Regions from separate parts of the Homo sapiens genome. Here region 1 is linked to region 2. Evidence: fine-mapped expression QTL. A gene starts in region 2. The other region holds a variant in brackets. All regions are shown on one strand. Distances are between the middles of the regions. Region 1 overlaps IDS (iduronate 2-sulfatase). Region 2 holds the start of IDS (iduronate 2-sulfatase).

The links. PIP is the estimated chance that this variant, and not a neighbour inherited with it, causes the effect.
Region 1: its variant is fine-mapped to the expression of IDS in whole blood (TOPMed, PIP 0.93).

The regions. Positions count from the first base shown.
Region 1 is chrX:149,470,587-149,480,374 of GRCh38, forward strand. It overlaps IDS (iduronate 2-sulfatase), which reads right to left. Exons shown (of 9, transcript NM_000202.8): 9 at 6,402-9,788. LOC107985667 (a long non-coding RNA gene) reads right to left here and starts at 1,551. Exons shown (of 2, transcript XR_001755972.2): 1 at 963-1,551; 2 at 318-791. RefSeq lists a silencer at 372-666. The variant C/T (reference allele first, on the strand shown) is at 6,107.
Region 2 is chrX:149,501,552-149,511,672 of GRCh38, forward strand. It overlaps IDS (iduronate 2-sulfatase), which reads right to left and starts at 3,755. Exons shown (of 9, transcript NM_000202.8): 1 at 3,484-3,755; 2 at 2,606-2,742; 3 at 1,761-1,938. The coding sequence starts at 3,586. RefSeq lists enhancers at 2,334-2,882, 3,006-3,507, 3,500-3,659, 8,882-10,081 and a silencer at 2,844-2,943.

The DNA of each region.
Region 1 (9,788 bases), 31 kb before region 2:
ATTGTTCATCTGAAATTCATATTTAACTGGGCATCCTGCATTTTATCCAGCAGCTGTATTCCTGCGGCCCACGTGGTGGTTGGCACCTGCCGCCAATACTGCTTGATAGAGAAAATAGCATAATATTTTGCAATAGTATTTGGGGATGAATACTATAGGCTGCAAGGGTAACATTTGTGCATTTGTGTCGTTTTTGGAAGACGTTTCCATCATGTATAAAGCCTGTGCCTCGTGGATTGCAAATGAGACCCAGTTCCGGGGGGGGTGGGAATGAGAAAGCAGTTAGAAAAGAACCCCAGGGGATCTGAGACCCGAGCTTCATCTGCCGAGTATTTTATTCTCGTTAATTCATAACAGTGTCTTTAAAATCCTGGACTAGAATTTGAGAACAGTCAGTGTGTGCGACAGTCATTACTCCTTGGAGACTCCCACTCCGCCAGCCGGGCGCCCTTCGTGCGTTCTTGGTGCCACAGCGGCCTCCAGTGGTTCTCTGAGGAACCACACGCTGTCTCCACCGCCAGGCTCCAGCTTGTCCCTAAAGCCAGGGCGGAAGGCGGCGGCGCCCTGTGGCTGCCCAGGGGCCTGGGCTGTGTGGCCGGATCAGAGCTGTAAGGCACAAATCCAAGTGCGCGCCGCCGTGGAAACAAAGCCCTTCCCTGTTGCTGTGAAGCTCAGACCAGACAGGGTTCTATTTCATCTTCCACGCCAACGTGTAACGTATCTGCTGACCCAATTTTACAGATGTTCTCTTCAAAACGGACTCGGCTTTGTGAATATTTTTCTCTATCAAGCTGTGGTGATAGAAATGTCAAAAAGCAGGTTGGGGGGGGCTTGAAATAGAATGAGACACTGTTCTGCTCAGAATTGATTCTTATTCTATCAATTGGTTGGACTGGAATGAATAGTGGGAAAGGTAAAACCACTGGAATTAGGACCCCCTACCCCTGCCCAGTGCCTCTTACCGCCAACCTAGCAACAGCCTCGCTTCATTTCCTAGAAAGGGCGGCACCAGCGATCCATTATTGAAAACACGCGACTCCCATAACCTTGTTCATTTTCATATGTGTAGCTCAGGGCAAGAGGTTCTCTGCTACGGCTTCCCTTTGATTTGAAAGCAATACAAAGAATAAAGGAAAATCAAAACTGTGGCCATAGCAAGGCTGACGCTTGATCCTTCCACACACATGTGTGCCCCCCAGTTACTACAAAGGCAATTTTCCAAACGGGTGGTCGCCAGCCTTCTTCCTTTCACAAAGTGATTTTCTGGCGGTTTCATAGCTTTGAGGTGGCTCCTTTGCACATCATTTCAGCTGAAATCTACTCCCTGGATCGGGAGACCCAAGAAGAGAAACCTTGTGGAAGCAGCAGTCCTTGCAGAAGACTGGACTTGGAGGTGGGCTGAAAATAGACTTGGTGGACTTGGATCTGAGGCTGCTTCCACTTGGCTAGCTGTGTCTCCTTGGTGGAGCTGCTTGCCTCCTCTGGGCTTTAAGCTCCCACCTCAGAATAAGGAGCTGCAGTGGTGCATGCCTGTAGTCCCAGCGACTTGGGAGGCTGAGGTAGGAGAATCGCTTGAGCCCAGGAAATCGAGGCTAGCCTGGGCAACATAGGGAGATCCTGTCTCTAAAAAAGCAAAAGGAAAATAAACAAATAAGGAGGTGGATGAGTGTCCTTCCAACTCCCAGTCTCTGATTCAAGCTACGGTACCTTTGGTCTTTCTCAAACTCTTTAAAGACAATTATTTTCATTCATTCATTTAGCAAACATGTAAGTGCCTAAATTTGCCAGGCCCTAGGTTAGAGGCTTAGTCTAGAAAAATGAATAAGAAATGTCCCCTTCCTTAGAAATAGGTCATTGCAAAGCAACGTAAGAAGTACTAGAGGGAAGATAGGAACTCAGGTTCTGTGCACTCTGCTGATGGGAGTGTGAATTTGTGCTACCTCTCTGGAGGAAATTTGGCACTAACTTCCAGATTTTCAAATGCAGACACTTCATCAATCAGGAGCCCTGGTTGTTTTACTGACTAGTTAATTTAAGCAGAAAAAAAAGGTTTTTTCTTTTTTGTCTGTTTGTTTTTGAAAGGCTTGAGTAGCTCATAGAATCCCAGAGAAGGCCAAAGTCTCAAACCTAAAAAACAGGTAAGGACAAAGGTGACCAGGCAAGCTGCCATAACCACACAAAAACAGTTTGGTAACCATAGTGACACTACCAGTGCTGGACACTGGTGGTTAACATCACCACAGAGCCTTCCTCTGGGGGAAGATGAATTCACACTGGTTCCTGCTTTACCAACTCAAGGAGGAAAGCATCTTGCTGAGTTGAGTCAAAGTCATATGCCTGCTGTCTAGCCACAAGGAAGTCATGGGAAAATGAGCTCCTGGCACTTTGCACCTCTGCAGTGGCAAGAGGGCTCTCCCTGCCTGCCACTCAAAATAATTGAGTGCAGAATTTCCCAAGTAGAGAAAGGCACTTAGGATGCTGGTGTCCAACATCATGTCAAATGTCCTCTACACATGCTTTTGACCCAAGAATTCTATTTCTACAATTTTATCCTTTAGAGATACATTAATACACAAGTGCACAAAGATGGCTGCATGGTGATGTTCTCTGCATCATAGTTTGTAATAGAAATGACACTGGAAACAACCTAAAGAGTCAGCAATAGGAGCTTAGGGAAATGACAGAAAACAATGCGGCCATTATGAACACTGTATTCATTCATTCCACAAACATTTGTTGTGGGTGTTACTGTGTACTGGGCACTAGGAGGCAATGATGCAAAAATAGACACTCTCTACCCCCATGGAGCTTTCTGGGGAAACAGATACAAATGAAATAATTACACAAACCAGTGAAAAAGTACAACCAAGCTGAGGACTATGAAGAAGTGGTATGTGTGTGATGCAAGCTGCTATGCAACCTAGTCAAAGGCATCAGGGAAGAATGCCCTTGGAAAGGAAGGGTTAAGTTGGCCATGAAGATGGAGTAGGAGTTAAAACAAGGAGGTGTGGCAGGTCAGCAGGGGGCAAACCATGAATGGTCTACACAAAGGGCAGGTTCAGGTGTTTTCTGCTTGTCCACATAGTAATGGGAAGCCATTGGGAGGGAGGGAGAGCAGGGAGGTACAAGCGGTAGGCAGAGACACAATCAGGTTTGCATTTTGCAAAGATCATATTCAGAACTGTGTGAACTTGTTTGCAGTGTAGCAAGAGTAGGAGATCAGTTAGGAAGTGGTTCCATGTCCAAGTGATAGGAGATGGCTTCAGAATGGTACCCGGTGGAGGTAGAAACCTGGATGGATACACTGATACACAAAGTATCAGTGGATGCATGTATCAGATGGATACATGGATACACAAAGAGGTAAAATCCACAAGGCCTGGTGATGGATGTCTCTATTCCATAGAGTTTCTGGGCTATCCAGGGCACTCTGTGAGCAAACAGAGTCATGAAACTCAAGGCTAGGAAAAGCAGCATCCTCAGTATTATCTTTTGTGGAAACACTCACATTTATTAGACGTCATGGGAGAGGAAGGAAACTCAGAGGTTTCTAGTTTTGTCCTCCAGGAAATGGCCTCACATGTTTATATGGAAATTCTTCCAATTTGTGTGTCACAGAAATTTGGAATTGGGGAAGCCCTTAGAAATCACACAGTGTGAAAAGCAGACTAGAGGTGCCATGCCACCACACACCCAGGTTGTAAAACAGGATGTAGAAAAACCAATAGGAGATAGAGTATGAACCATTTTTTTATATATGTATTATTCAGGGGAAGGACTATGCCAAGTAAACAGTGGTGTTAGATTATTTTCTTTGCTTTTGTATATTTTTCTAATTTTTCTGTGATGAATATGTAATAATTTTTCAACTGAGAAAAAATGCAATATTATTTTTTAAAAGAAATCACCTATTTAACATCTTTTCTATGGGTGAGGAAACTCAGATGGGAGGGTCTCTCCACTGAACAGGAAGAAAGAGAAATCCAATCTACTACTACTACATGAAATGGTTTGTTATTAAATCATCTTGATTTGAAAGCTCCTTGCAATCTTTAAAAATGTATTCAAGGCTATATGCAAAGGGCCAATCACCTGATATAGTCAGCATGCTATTTTAATAATTGAGCATGCATTCTCCAATCATAGAAGTCTCAGAGAAAGAGGGGATTTTAGTAGTTTTTCTTTCTGTAGCAAATGTTTGCCTATGTTAGAGTTTCTCGGCCTTGGAACTATTGCCATTTGGGCCAGATAGTTCTTTATTGTTCTGGGGGAGGGGGTGCTGTCTGTGTGTGATTCCTATCATCCCTGGCCTCTACACACTAGATGCTAGTAGCAGCCTTTCCCCAGTTGTGATAACCAAATATGACCCTAGACACTGACAAATGTCCCAAGAGGAGAACTGCTCTCTATTGAGAACCTCTTGCCTACGTGATGCTTACATAGCTCAGATGACAGCTCACCACACTTAGGAGCAGGCTCCTTCAATGGTAAGCTGCTATGTTAGAAAGTTCAGCCTCTGTTTTTTAATTTTTTTTTTTTTTTTTTTTGGCGGAGTCTCACTCTGTCACCAGGCTGGAGTGCAGTGGCACGATCTCAGCTCACCGCACCCTCCACCCCCCAGGTTCAAGCAATTCTCCTGCCTCAGCCACCCAAGTAGCTGGGACTACAGGTGCACGCCACCAAGCCTGGCTAATTTTTTTTGGTTTTTTTTGTATTTTAGTAGAGACAGGGTTTCACCAAGCTGCCCAGGCTGGTCTCGAACTCCTGAGCTCAGGCAATCCACCCGCCTTGGCCTCCCAAAGTGCTAGGATTACAGGCATGAGCCACCACACCCGGCCGAAAGTTCAACCTCTGGATGGCCATCTGTCTCCTTGCAGGGTCCAGTGCTGGATCTTCCCTTGGGGCTCTAGATATCATGTGTTTAATCTCTCTTGCCTCTGATGGTTCTTCAGAAATTTCAAGATAGTGCCATGCTCTCCCCCCAACCCCCTACTTTTACCCACCCGAGTCTTTTCTCTCCCCATTTGAACACTTCTTCAACTGTTCCTCACATGATATGCTGGGTCTCACCCATCTTAGGGCTGTCCTCTGAACAGGCTCCAGTTTGTCCACATTTCCATGACAGCTCCATGTTCGCAACTAAACACAATTCTCCAGGTGCTGGCTGACCGTGACACGTAGGCAGAGCAGCTTACCTCCTCCTTCCTCCTGGATATCCATTTATGTAGCCTGAGATGCCTTTCACTTCCTGGCAGCCACATCACACCGCATCCCCATTCTGAGCTGTTGGCCACAATGTAAAAGGGTTGCATGTGCAATACTGCTCCCTTGGGTCACCCCTCACTAGCACCTTGGTTCTGGGGCCTTCCTGTTAGGTCTCCATTTATCCTTTTCAAACTTCAGCAGTTTCCAAGAACTGGTAGGCATGCTTGCCTCTGAGGATAATAGGGTAGCTGGGAACAGCATGGAAGAGGAAATGACTCTTCATTGTATACATGTTTGTGCCTTTGTTTGAGACAAGGTCCCACTCTGTCACTCAGGCCAGAGCGCAGTGACATGATCAGAGCTCACTGCAGTCTTGAACTCCCAGGCTTAAGTGATCCTCCTGCCTGTGCCTCCCGAGTAGCTGGGACTAGAGGTGCCATGCCACCACACCCAGCTAATTTCTTTAAAAATTTGTGTAAAGATGGGTGTCTTGTTATGTTGCCCTGGCTAGTCTTGAGCTTCTGGCCTCAAGCAATCCTCCCTCATGTTTGTGCCTTTTAAACTTCGCACCATACATAATAAACAAGCCAGTAAATGAATACATTGAAGTTACTTCACCTGCTGAGATTTACTCAATCCTTCCAGCCTGCCTTTATCTATTTGGAAATGTATGTCTTCCAATGTCCTCACCAATATAAGAAGCACTGCCTTCCGAATTTTTAGTCGAAACCAGTAGGATAGGTAGAAAAAGATAAACTAAGGCTCATGAAGACACTAAGCCAAGACCACTAAACAGGCAAATTTCCAGTTGGAACCCCAAGAACCCACTAATTTGCTTCCTTTACCTTGTTGCTATTGCATATATGGTTTCCCTAAGCCTACCTAATTGGTCAGCCCACTT[C/T]CTCTTTCTTTCTGGGGAGTCTCTGTACTGTAACTGCAGGGCAAGCTGAGAGACATACCACTGCCCAGAAAAGTGTGTCTATGGTCAAGTGCAACTCACCATCTACCCTCAAGAATTCAACTCCCTAATAAAACCCACACCACAGCTGCCTTGGCCCTCACATGGGGAGGAACAGGTTGGATACTTTAAGGGGGCACACCTGTACCACGGTATCAAGCTCTGTTAAATGGCTCCTTTTATTTTAAGGCAGCACCAAGCGGTCCCAAACCAGCAGCAAGAATTGCACACACGATAATGGCAAATTTAATGTGATTTATTCATATAATAACTCATGCTGCACTTAACACAATACAAACTTATGTTTTTCAATAGTGTAGAAGATGTGAATTCATAAAAGCTGTAAGTTAATGAGTACTGAATAAAAATCACCTGCAAAAGGTTCTTTCAGAAACACACCCAAAACTACAATAAATTAGGGCAAGGGGTTTGTAAATGGCAGCTTCAGTCCTACTCCAAACCTTCTCACCCATATAAATCATAGTCCCTGACTTTTATAGAGGAAAAACCAAAAGCAGTTAACCCCTGGCCTTTGCTCCTCTCCTTGTCCACGTCCCAACTCTTGTTTCCTAGCATGTGCTGAATACACTACTAGACCTTGAGCTTTTGTTCCTCATTGGCAGTGGGAGCCCTCTTGCCTGGGCCGTCACATTACTCAGAGCCAAGTACCTGAGGGTTGGCTCCCAGCCACCTCATCTGGAACCAACTTGTCGGTTTGTTCTCTCCCACCCAAACTCTTCCCCCATCAGAGGATAAGGACTATCACCTAGAATCCAGAATCAAACAAGGGCATCCTTTGGTGATTAGCACCATACATGACAGTGATGTCAGGCAGGGCATGGAGTAATAGCCGGGAAACTCTGATCCCAAAGAAAACCCTTGAGCGTGGGCTCCCCACAACAGACTGTGTTTTATCAGACACTCAGAGGAAAGTGGCATCTGTCCCATCAGGTGAGTTAGTGGACAGGGACACCAACGGGAGCTTTCAGTAACATGTGGAAAGGCAAGACCCAAGAGCAGTGAGGGCTCTTGGCCATTATGGCCAAACGATTGGTGATGTGAAGGCAACAACTGACAGTCCTCTCTGCTTGAAGTTCTCATGTGCAGAAGAGAGAAACTGTCCTGAAGTACCAGGGGACCACTGAGTGCAGTGGGGCTGATGGCAGGTTCCACCACAACGGGCTATGCCTAAGGCCCCAAGGGACACCCTGGGTTCTACTTTAATCCCAGATCCCAGGCCAGAATTCAAGAGATTCCTCTGAAGAGCTATAACCTGCAGGATGGACTTGGGAAAGGAAAAGGGGCTGAGCCTCTATTTGGGAGTTTATACCCAAAGCGCTTCACACAGTAAGGTATGGACAGCTTGGGAACCTGACAGGCGGCAAAAGATTGGGCAGAGAGGGAAGAGTCAGTTTCCCTCTGTAGCTAGGGTGAGGCTGCTCCAGAGTCACTTGGTTACCTCCCAGCACAAACCCCAACATCTTAAGTGATTAAAGATTAATGTAGGTTGGGTGTATACCCAAAACAATTAAGAGCAGGGACTCGAACAGATATTTGTACATCCTTGTTGACAGCAACATTATTGCAATGGCCAAAAGGTAGAAATGACCCAAGTGGTCACTGGTGGATGAATGGATAAGCGGAACGTGGTACATACATTTCAGTCCAAAAAAAAAAATTAATGAAGCAGGGCTGTGCAGCCATTACAGCTGTTAATCAAGAACTGTCAATGACATAAAAAACCAAGCTAACATTGTGTTAGATCAAAAAAACAAGATATAGATTATATGTGGTAGTCTGCATGTATGTAAAGCTAAATATGTCCATATCTGCATATATGTCTTTAGGCAGGTAAAAGAATGAAAGGAAATATACAAATGTCAGCAGTGGGTATGTCTCAAATGCTGGGCTTCTTTTCATCTCCAGTTTTCACATGTTCCAGATTTTATGCAATGAGCATATATTACTCTGATAATGGGGTGGAGAGACACAGTAAGCATAAAACCAAACCCCAAACAATGCAAAGGAAAATGAATATTTATTCAATGTCCAGATTGGGGAGGGGTCTGTGTGTTTAACAGGAAAAGATACAGAAAAAAACCTATCACACAGGAAAAGATAAATATGTTTGATTATTTTAAAAGGTGAAACCCATAACCAAAATTTAAAGGCAAATTCACACAAGTGGAAATACAGATGCCCAACTATCGTACAAAGAGAACCATGATCAAGGTCACTAACAAGCAAAGAATTTTAAGTTTTTTTTGTTTTTTGTTGTTTTTTATTTGAGACGGAGTCTCGCTCTGTCACCCAGGCTGGAGTGCAGTGGCGCGATCTTGGCTCACTGCAACCTCCGCCTCCTGGGTTCAAGCAATTCTCTGCCTCAGCCTCCCAAGTAGCTGGGATTACAGGCGCCCGCCACCACGCCCGGCTAATTTTTGTATTTTTAGTAGAGACGGGATTTCACCATCTTGGCCAGGCTGGTTTTGAACTCCTGACCTCGTGATCCACCCGCCTCAGCCTCCCAAAGTGCTGGGATTACAGGCGTGAGCCACCGCGCCCGGCAAGAATTCAAAGTTAAAACAGGTTACCACTTTCACCTATTACCATCAGGTTGCTTATTTTTGTTTTATGTTTTTTATTTGTATGCATGTTTACTTTATGTTTCAGTTTACTACCCCCTAAGGCAGCAAGAGAGCAGGAAGATAAGCAAAATAGAGATGTTTTTGACAACTTGGCACTGAGAGACTATCCTAAGGGAATAATCTGAAATACATAAAAACATTTTATTCACAAAATTGGTCATCACAGCATTATTTACAATACTGAAAATCTGGAAATAGCCTAAATTTCTAACAATTGAAAGAAGGTTAAGTAAATTATAAGACTACACAATAAAATATATTACCAGCAATATATCTTTGTGAAAATCTATAATAACCACACATAATACTTAGTAAAAAAGAACATAAATTACATGATAAAGAATATGACCAGAACAATGCAAAAAATTCACACCCCCAAAAAAGACAAGATATTATATGGCAATTTTGTGGTAAAATATTCATGTATTTGTGCTGCATTTCTAATTTTTCCGTAACTGACACATCAGTTTTATAATTAGGAAAAAAATACCTTTTTAAAGTAAAGCGAACACAAGATTCTTTAGCAATGTTCATTCCATCCCACAATAGAGTCTAGAGAGTCACAAAAACCTCAGCCTCCTTCGGGAGGGGGGGAGCTTGGTAGTGAAAAATGGTCATGAATGAATGGGTGAAGAGAGGGATGGGACAACCTAGTAGGAGGGAGGTAGGGATAGGCAAGGGAAAGGTGGGGACCAGTAGTCATACTGGTCAGCCAAGGAAAGGGGCATTGTGGAGTCAGGGAAGACTCTGACTGCTCAACAGAGGTCTGTCTAGACCCAGTAGTAGGCACTGACGGTGTTATCAAAGGACAGGATCAAAGAGAGATTTTAGGAAGACACGTGGATTATTTTAGGGACAGGGGAGGAAAGAGGAGGGGTGGGTAAACTACTTGGAAAGAAAGGGAGAAGGACTGAGAAGATGGCAATGGGAGTGGGGAGGAAGGGGCTGATTGCCTTTGTGACCTCACTACCAAACATACT
Region 2 (10,121 bases):
AACAGCACTGGAAACCAAGGAAGGACTTCCAGCTTTCAAAAGCATCGAAGTGCCAAGTGGGGGATCCTCCAAGCACAGAGGTTATTGTGAGTCAGGTGAGGACTGGCAGGGAGGACTTCTAGGAGCCAGTGAGGCCTGTGAGGGATCTGAAGGGAAGTGCTGCCTATAGTGGTTAGCTGGGAGTGGAGGGGATCACAGGCAGAACCTCGTGAGAAAGCATCAGCAGCAGTCACACAGTGGGACTCCCATAGGGAGTACCAGAAGAGACAGGAATGGAGAGAAAGAGGGCAGCGGGTGGAGGGCCTATGAAGACAGCAAGCACTGTGGAAAGAGCACACAGGAAGCCAACAACCACAGGTCCAAATCCTGATGCTGCCTCTTAGCATCCTTGCAACCTCTGGCAAGCTACTTGACTCCCATGAGCCTTCATGTCTTCCTTGGGAAATGATGATGATGATAAAAACCCACCTTGCTTGCTGTTGGGAGGATTAAAGGAGTGGCCAGCATGGTAAACGGTACATACCTGGCACACAGTGGTGGCTACTGTCATCTTGAAGCAGGCCCAATGCTAACAGAAAAAGGTCTTGAGAACAAAGATTCAGCTGAAAAATGTGTTCCCACAAGGGCTGCAGGGAAAGGTTTATTCTCTGAGAAGGACATGGTGCTTAGAGCCTGGTGCCAAAATCCAATCATCAGGAGGGAGGAGGTCAAGCAACATCACTCAGTCCTTGCCTGGTTTCCCCTCCCAAAGCACAATCTCCTCCCTCTGCTGTGTTTCCTCCTCTCTCCAAAATCATCACTTCCCTCCAGCTGCATTTGGGCAAGGGGTATGGTAATGAGAACACCAAACTGCAGAAAGTTCTCCTGACACTGGACTTTTGGCTGTGCAATATGATTCCTGACAGGTTCACCTCTGAAACTGGCCTGACTTAGTAGAGCTGAATGTCACTCTCAACCTGGGCTGGCCAGCTGAGCTCCTGCAGAAGGCTGCCAAGCCTGCCGGTGTAACCACTGAGCAAAGGGAAAGAGACTGAAAACATTCGTCATTCCCAAATGATAAGCATTATTGTCCCTATGGTGCTCTTGTCTTCCAATACTTTTTTCTCCATTTTTTTTCTCAAATACTCATGCATTACTTCTATAAATAAAAAGTTTTAAAGTTTGTTTGCTTTTCACTATCCCCATATTGGCATTAAAGAGAGCCAGTTTATCAGGCAGCATTTGAGGTAAGGAATGTCCGTCTCTGGGACCCTATAGATCCTGGGTACCAGATTACACTCATCTTTCTGACTTAATTTCCAGAGTGGATAGCAGCCCCTACCTAAGCACAGCCCCCTCATTGGGCAATAAGTCAGCAACAGCAATGCTGGCCACACGGGAGGCCCTCAGGTGTCCTCACCCCACCCCTAGGTTTACTGACAGGTACCCTGCAGGGGAGAGGGTGGGGCCCTGAGCTGGACTCCACCCAACACTGCCACCTCCCCAGCCTGTGTCCTCCCTACCACCCGAGGAGCTGAAAGACCCAACAGCACACCCTCAGTGGTTTCTGAAAGGAAGCAAAGCTCTTTCTACCCTTTTTCACTTTGGGTGAAAACGTGGCTGGGTTGACAAGTCAGTTTTTTAGAAAGGAAGCACTGACTAGCGAGGGACTCGCCCAGCCAGAAGAGGGCTCTGCAAAGACAGCCCCATCCCCAGGATGGGAATGCTGGATTCAGACACCACAAACCAAGAGAACCCAGACTCTGGACATGGAGCAGTACCAGGGTGAAAGACTTTTCCCACCGACATGGTCACATAGCCATTCTCCTTGAAGTACTGGGGGATGGTGGAGAAGTTTCCAGCGTGCACCCTCCAGTAGGAGTTGAAGTCGTACAGGCGGGTGGTGTCAGGTCTCCTGCCAGTGAGGAAAGAAACGCGGCTCGGGGCGCACACTGCTTGCTGTTAGGGAGCAGAAGCAGAGGTAAGCATCGCCACAGCAAAACATGTCTGCCATCTCTTAGGTAACCAAGCAACCGCCCTCCCGAGGCTCCTAGCAAACAGCTTGGTAGCTGAGTCATGCAGAGCTCAAACCAGACACTGGGATTTGGGTGTCACCTAGGCAACAGACTGCTTCCGGGAGAGAAAAGGGAAGCAATCAGCCCCTGAAACCAGCAGATGCTTATCTCCTCCTACGCAATGGCCTCCCCAGGCACACAGAGCGGCCAGTGTTGCTGGGGGCAGAGCCATGAGGGGGTTCAGGGAGCAGGGCCACCCTGGCTAGCTCTCACCTGAGGCCCAGCCTGCAGACCTGTGGGTGCCCTTCTGCAGCACCCCTTCCTTCTGAGCACCAGGCAAGCGCCCGTTCTGGGAGAAAGCTGGCCAGGGCTGCCATGAACACATCAGGGCCAGGGCGCACCTTGCACCCAAGGAGAAGGCCACCCTTGAAGGTCAAGCTTTCCCATGAGTGGAAAACCAGATTTTCTCCACTACCATTTTCCAGACTATGCTTCCCTCTAACAAGATGTCCCGCACAATCTGTGCCATCTGACAATAGCTGAAGCTCCCCGCCCCCAACCCTCAGTGCACGAAGCAGCACACACCCACAGCTAGAGGTTCCCAGACATACCTGCGCAAAGGCATTCTGGAAGAGGAGGCTGTGGGATGCCAGTTGGTCAATATTTGGGGACCTCACCAGCTTATCCCCATAACAGCCCAGGGAGGGGCGCAGGTCATCCACGATGATGAGAAGAACGTTCAGAGCATCTACACAGGAGGGAGGGGCTTTGGTGAGGTAACCTGCACTGACACTGAACCCTCCCTCATGGTAGGTGCTAGGTTACTAAGAGGCCCAAGGCTGGACCCTGCACCTTAACAGCCTAGCCAGGGAGGGCGCTGTGCCTCAGCAAGGGTGGGAGTGGGGCTCGAGGAGGAAGCCTGAGTCCTGGGTGGCAGGGTTAGGCTTTGGTCATGGCCTCCAACCTGGGTGAGGAAGCGAGATAGTGAGTGAAAGATGGTGGAAAGGAAAGATGAATTTAGGAAAAAAAGAGAATGATGTATGCAGGAAAGGACAGATGGTTGGATGGAGGAAGATAAGGAGGAAAAGATGAATAGCTGAAGGGAAGAAAGGATGGAGAGAAGGAGGGGAGAAGAGAGAGAAATATGAATGGATAGAAGGTAAAAGGGACGGATGGACCAATGGAGGGAGGAAAGGAGGGGGAAAGATGGATGGATAGAGATGGGAAAGATGGGGGGAAAGAGGAAGGGAAGCACGGAGGGATAGGAGATGGATGGATGAATAGATGGAAAGAGGGAAGGGAGGGATGAAGGGACGGTAGGAAGGAGTGAAAAATGGAGGGAGGGAACGAATGATGGATGAAAGAAGGAATGGTAGGAGAGAGGAAGGGTAAAAAGAATGGATATAAACAAAGAAGGAAGGAAAGAAGGAAGGAGGAAGGAAGGGAGGGAGGAAGGGAGAAGAGATGGCAGGGAGGGCGTGGGCGGCACCTGTGGTCGAGTTGGCCTGCGTTTCGGATCCGAGGGCGACGCAGACGGAGCTCAGAACCAGACCCAGCCAGAGAAGGCCTCGGCCGGTCCGGGGTGGCGGCATTTCGGCTTCGACGCGGCCGCTTCAGAGCGGCGGGGACAGGCTGCAGCAGGTGGCGCAGTTAGCAGCCGCCGCCGCAGCCACAGAGACCTCCTCGTCGGGAACCCATGAAGACTGCGCAACACAGCCGCCGCCCGGGCCCGCAGGCCCGGGCGCTGGCCGCAGCGCGAGTGCGTCCGTGCGACTCTTCCCTGCGTCCCTCCCCTCCGGGGCGGGTTCTAGAGGTGCGCGTCATCCTGCAGCAATAGGCGTGGCCGAGAGACAGGCGCAGAGCGGGGGCGGGCCAGTTGCCTTGCAAGCTTCGCAGACCCAGCGGCCCGCAGGCCCCTAGGTGTAGAACTGCTAGGGGTATAGCGATTCAGCCACTGCCCTTAACAACTAGCAGTTACCCGTCTTTTTGCCTTTGCTTGTGCTATGCCTTTCACCTGGAAGCCCTGCCCTTCCTTCTTTTTATAAAAGACACACTTCTTGTAAGCCAGCCTCAATGCCATTCTCCTTCCATGAGGCCTTTTGAGAAAGTCCCTTCCTCCATCTAAAGGGACTCCCTTTCCTATTCATTTCTTCAACTAATTCTTATTAAGTATCGCAAATATGTATACCAGGCGCTGTTGGTGGCACTGGGGCTCTATGTCCCTGCTTTGGTGGAGCTTAAAACAATAAAAAAATATAGAGAGTGTCGGTGGGCATACCCGGTCTGGAGAAAAATAAAGCGTGGGTGCGGGGCATGCTTGTTATTTTCTATGGGGTGGCCAGGCAGGGCCTCACTAGTGAAGTGGCATTTGAACAAAATTTTGAAGCAAGTGAGGGAGCAAGCCGCATTGAGGTCTGCAAGAAGGGTGCGCCAAACAGAGAGAGCAGCAATTGTGGGGAGATGGAATCCTAGCCCTACACTGTACTGTACTGAATACTATTATACCGTCCTAATACTGCAAACACAGTTTGATTTTCAACTTTGAGAATCAATCTATAACAAAGCCCAGATGACTTAATTATGACTAAACAACAATGGACAATGGGAAGGTACAAATACAGCTGTGATGGTGCTGTGGTGCACTGCTCAGATCTCCCTTCAACACCAAAAATTTTATTTCCCTAGCTGGCTTGAGAGCTGTTAGCTGTCGTTAGCCCTCATCAGAAATTGTCTTAGAAAAAGATAGGTACCTCAGCCAAGGTCACCCCTGTTCTCAGGAAGCCCACATCAGTGATTCAACTTGAAGGTACAAAGGTGCAGCCCCTTACCCCAACTTGGGACATCTCTGAAAGGCCATTTCAGCTTCAGAGCTCCCTGTGGGGTTAACTGAAGCCTTTTTTGAGACTGCCCACTTTCTCTGTCTGTTGAATTTTGATTTCTTCCCTCCCCTCCCCTTCTACAGGTGTTGATCCTAAGAGTACTCCCTAAGAAACTTCCTGCACATTACTCTACATCTTAGTCAGCTTCCTTGGGAACCTGGCCTGCAGCAACAGTTGACAAAAAGCTGGGAGGAGGAAGGGAGATGGCAGGAAATGTAGGCACATTAATTTAGGGTTAGCAATTTAGGATTGTCTCCTTTGCCCCAGCCTATCGCAAAAAAATAATAATAATAATAATAATAAATCAATAGTCGCTGTCCCCAGTTCATAGAAAGAGAAATACAGATTTAGGGATATTACTTAAAGATACAAAAGTAAACAATAGAAAACTTAAAAATGGCAATAAATCTATATAGTAAAAGGAGAAGGGAAAATGGCAGGGAGAGATGAAACAAAATTTGTCATGAGTTGATAACCAATGAAGTTCATTGATGAACACCTGGGGTTTATTATACTATTTTCTGTAATCTTGTATAGGTTTGATCAATTTCCAAAATCCAAGGTTAAAAATATGTACATAAAAAGAGGAATGGATAAGTGATCTCATCTATCATAGGAAGAAGTCAGCAATGTCTAAAGTTGAAAACATTAGAAAGTTGATATAGAAATAGCATAGTATTTAGAAAGACAGGGACAATCTACTAGAAGAAATGAAAGTAGAAACATTTAAAATGAGAACAGAAGAGGGAAGGTGCAGGGCAGAGGGCCTTTGCTTTGTATGGTATGTCTTTTGGTCCTTTTTGACTTAGGTGTTAGTGTCCTCCCCCCAAAAATTGTATGTTGGAGTCCTAACACCCAGTACCTCAGAATGTGATCTTATTTGGAAACAGGGTCTTTAACAGGGTAATCAAGTTAAAAGGAGGTAATTGGGTTGGGCCCTAATCCAATATGACTGGGGTCCTTATCAAAAGAAAAAATTTGGACACAGACACAAACACATAGAGAGAAGACATCCATGTGAAGACAATGGATTGAAGTGATGCATCTACAAGCCAGTGGATGCCAATGATTGCCAGCAAACCACAAGAAGCTAGGAAGAGGCAAGGAAGCATTCTTCTTCTATAGGTTTCAGGGGGTGCATGGTCCTGCTGGCACCTTGATTTAAGACTTCTGGCCTCCAAAACTGTAAGACAATGCATTTCTGTTGTTCTAAGCCATGTAATTTGTAGTACTTTGTTACAGCAGCCCTAGAAAACTAACACTACCTATAAACAATTCAAAATTTAACAAGATTGATTGTCTCAGCTGGGATAGAAAATTATATATGCCACTTGGCACAATTGTGTGTGTTTGTTTTTGTTGTTTGTTTGCTCTGGTGTAAGCTCGAGGTTTTGCTGGGGCTCATAGCAGCAGAAGGACAAGAGTGGGAGCAAGTGGAGAGAGCCAGTAAGAGAGCAGTTCAGGTGGCTGACAGTGGTTAAGAAGACTGGTGGACTGGGGACAAACAAAGATCTAGGAGATGGGTGAGGATATAGAGAGGCAGCAAGGGTGTGAGAGTACTGGTTTTAGTCCCAGAATGAGACCCTGAAATTTAAGATTTCTGAGGTAAAACAGATCCTGGTGATTTAAAGGTCAAGGATGTGGCCTTGAAGCTGGGAGGCTGAGGTGGGGGGGAAGAGATTGCTAGAGGTTAGAGATGAGGAAGAAGTCAAGGGTCTGTGAGTGGCACAGGCTGCTGATGAATACACTGCAGTCCCCCAGAATGATGACAGGACACAGGGTACCAAGGTCACCTGTGAGCCTGGTACCTGAGTCTTCAGTGAATGAGGGATAAGGGCCAATCAATGCTATGTAACAAATGACCACAAGCTTAGTGGCTGTAAACACTACTCATTTGTCACCTCCTACTTTCTGTGGGTCAGAAATCCAGGCACAGCTAAGCTGGGTCTTAGGTTCAGGGTCTCAAAAGGCTGCAGTGAAGGACTACATTCTCACTTAAAGCTCGGGATTGTGGATAGCACAATCCACAGGTGCTCAAGTCCTTTATATAAGATGGTGCAGTGTTTACATATAACATACATACACATCCTCCCGTATACTTTACATTACCTCTAGATTACTTATAATCCCTAATACAATGTAAGTGCCATGTAAATAGTTATTATACTGCATTATTTATGAAATAATGACAAGGGAAAAAAGTCTGTACATGTTCACTGCAGAGACAACCACCCATCTTTTTCAAATTCAACAGGTGGTTGAATCCACAGATGTGGAACACATGGATAAGGAGGCTGATTGTAGTACATTCTACCCATACACAAGGGGTCACATACACTAGGAGGCAGGAAACTTGGGGGCCATCTAGAATGGCATCTACCACAAAAGAGCCCTATCTTGAGTCTCAACTCCAACAGATAACAGAAAATTTAATCTAGTCAATTCCACATTTTCCCAGTTACTTCGGGATTGTCTTACTAATTACCAATTATTGTTATCAAGCAATTTAGGATTGTCTCCTTTGCCCCAGCCTATCACCTAAATTCTGTGAGACTCTTAAATTCGGAGAGAGAGAGCAAGAGAGAAGAGAATCTGCTTGTTGTCAATGGCAACCTGTCCATGCCAGCATCCACTCCCAATGTACAATCCCATCCAGCGCTCAGAGATGGCATACCTTCATGCTGTCTTCCAATGTGGTGTCGTCATTCTAACCTGGTTCCTAGCTGCACAGTCCATGCCATTTTCTATGTGACATTTTTTGGAGACGTGCTCTCCCTCTCGCTCTCTCTCTCCCCCTCTCCCTCTCCCTCTCTCCCTCTTTCTCTTTCCCTCTTTCTCTCTCCCTCCCTCTCTTACCTCCTTGGAGGCACGGGAAAATTCAACTGCTTTCCCATGCCACTTTAGTGTCACAGGAAGCTCAGGGGACTGCTCCAGACACTTCTGCAGCTAAGATATGTGGATTTGGTGTGAGAGGAGTTCTAGGACTCTGGACCTTCTAGGGTACCATACAGCAAAGGGAGTCCCCTTGCTCTTGGACTTCTACCCTACCCCCGCCTTTGAGCCTAACTCCAGGAGGAGGGGACAATGCACACTGGCAAATTGGTATATAGTCCCACACAATGGTAGGATGAGGATTCAGGGGAGAATTCAAGATTTGTCTCTCATTCCAGATCCAGGGATCCTTGGATGGGCACCCCTCAAGGGCAGGCTCTGCCCTGTCCATTTACTACTGTATCCCAGGGGCTAGTACCTTCGTGGGGTTTCAAGGGCTCGGGATGAGAACCATGATGAGAACTACCTGGATGAGGAAAGGGAGTGTCCCAGGCTGTCCTCAGCCCAATGCCAGTGAGGGCTCTCTCCCCTGCAGAGTCATAGGGAGGGCCCTGGGCTCTGTAGGCACGTGAAATGGTGTTCCAAGGAGGAGTCTAACGTGGGCTGTGAATGTTACCCAAATGCGCTGGGCACGGAGGGCACTGTTCCCAGAAGAGACTATCTCAAGGTGCGTGAGGCAACGTGCTAGAACTCTGCTCTCAATCTGAACTCTGGAGAGTATAGATGGTCATCCATAGGCATCTAGTTCCGTAGCCAGGTCTGTGCTACCCTGAGGACTAAGGTGCAGCAGTAGCAGCCCTAGGCTCCCTGGGGTTCCAGAGGAGTGAAAGTGAATGGCAACACAGCCAGAATCTGATTCTGTTTTACTTCCCAGGAAGAAGTGAAGCCGCATGGAGCATGAGGGGGCAGCCAAGGGGCTGGGCATCACAGAAGCCCTGACATTTGCTGGGCTCCTACCCTGCATCACATACTATATCAAAAACTTTAGGAGCTGAGATATTCTCTCACAATGGAAGAGGTTAGTCTCAGTCCCGTTTGCCTGTGGACATCTTGCATCGTCCTCTGAACAATCTTTCCCTTCCTTCCTCTTCTTTCCAGTTCTCGTCCCACCGTCTTCCCTCTCTTCTTTTCTTTTTTTTTCTCCCCTCAAGCCCAAGACTTTCCTGTCATGCCAGGCAATGATTCAGCCACTTCAGTTCTGGGTGGATGGATAGGCAGGGCTTAGAGCAGGCAACCCTCATGCTGTCAAAGCCAAAAAGTAGAGGAATTATAAAAGCCTCCACCAGGGGTTGCCTAAGCTCTGGTGTTTTGCCCCCACTACTTTAAAGGCGATTCGTTTAAAACAAAACAAAACGAAAAACAACAACTTACTTTGTAAAGCATAAGCTTAAAATAAGAAAAACAGAAGTGCCTAATCAGATCTTTGGAAGTATTGCATTGCACTGTCACTGAGTGATGTATGACTGGCTGTCTTTCTGTTTGGACTGCATTCATCTGAATGGAGTGGGTACATTGGCTACCGCCTTTTCTCCTGGTTTTCGCTGTTTCTCTTTGATCTAGAAACGATTTATTCTTACTCCCCCAGATTTCTTTATAAAAAGCCACAGGGAAGGGAAACAATGATGGCCGTTTGGGAATAAAGGAGGGCTCTCACAGTTGAAGTTTTCTCCATCTGGGCTTGGGTAAGGAGAAGGGCTTCTGGTCCCTCAGGCCTGTCAGTCATATACCTGGGACCTGTCCCGTGGTCATATAGACCAGACCCTGCACACCTGCAGTCTCAGGTTCTGACAAGCAGATATCTTGCAAAGCGGAGCCCACAGCTGGAATTCAAGGCAAAGCCCATCCCCTCTTGCCAGCAAGGCAGGAGTGTCCCTTCTGAAGTAAAAGCCAGAGGACAAGATGGACTGGGAAACACTGCAAAGACATTGCTCCTCGGCCTTTGGTGACGTTCCTCCAAGGTCCCCTCTCACAGGTGTGTTATGAGACATACCTCAGGCATGAGTGGACGCATCAACAAAAGGAATAGCTAAACACAGCCTGAAATAGGATGCCTTCAAGGGGACAAACAGAAGTGTAGGAGGAAGGATCTTCAAAGACATGCCAAATTACCGTGACTCATTACCATGGCCCTCTTAAGATCAGTGCTCGCAAGAAGTCAGTAGTTTATGCCAAACAAGTATAGCAAGAAGAGCAACCTTGCTGGGTGGGTGAGGAAAATCAGTCCTCTTTTCTATGACATGAGACTAATTATTAAAAGAATTTCAATTTTGTCTTTACCAAGACATGAGTTCCTTATGTACTGCATGCTGTCTTCTGCTTTTTATTTGAAGAAATGTGGCATTTGGGAAGCAGCAGATGTCCCCCCTGTGGAATCAATGTGAAATGATATTTTTGTAACATCATTAAAAAGTCTATC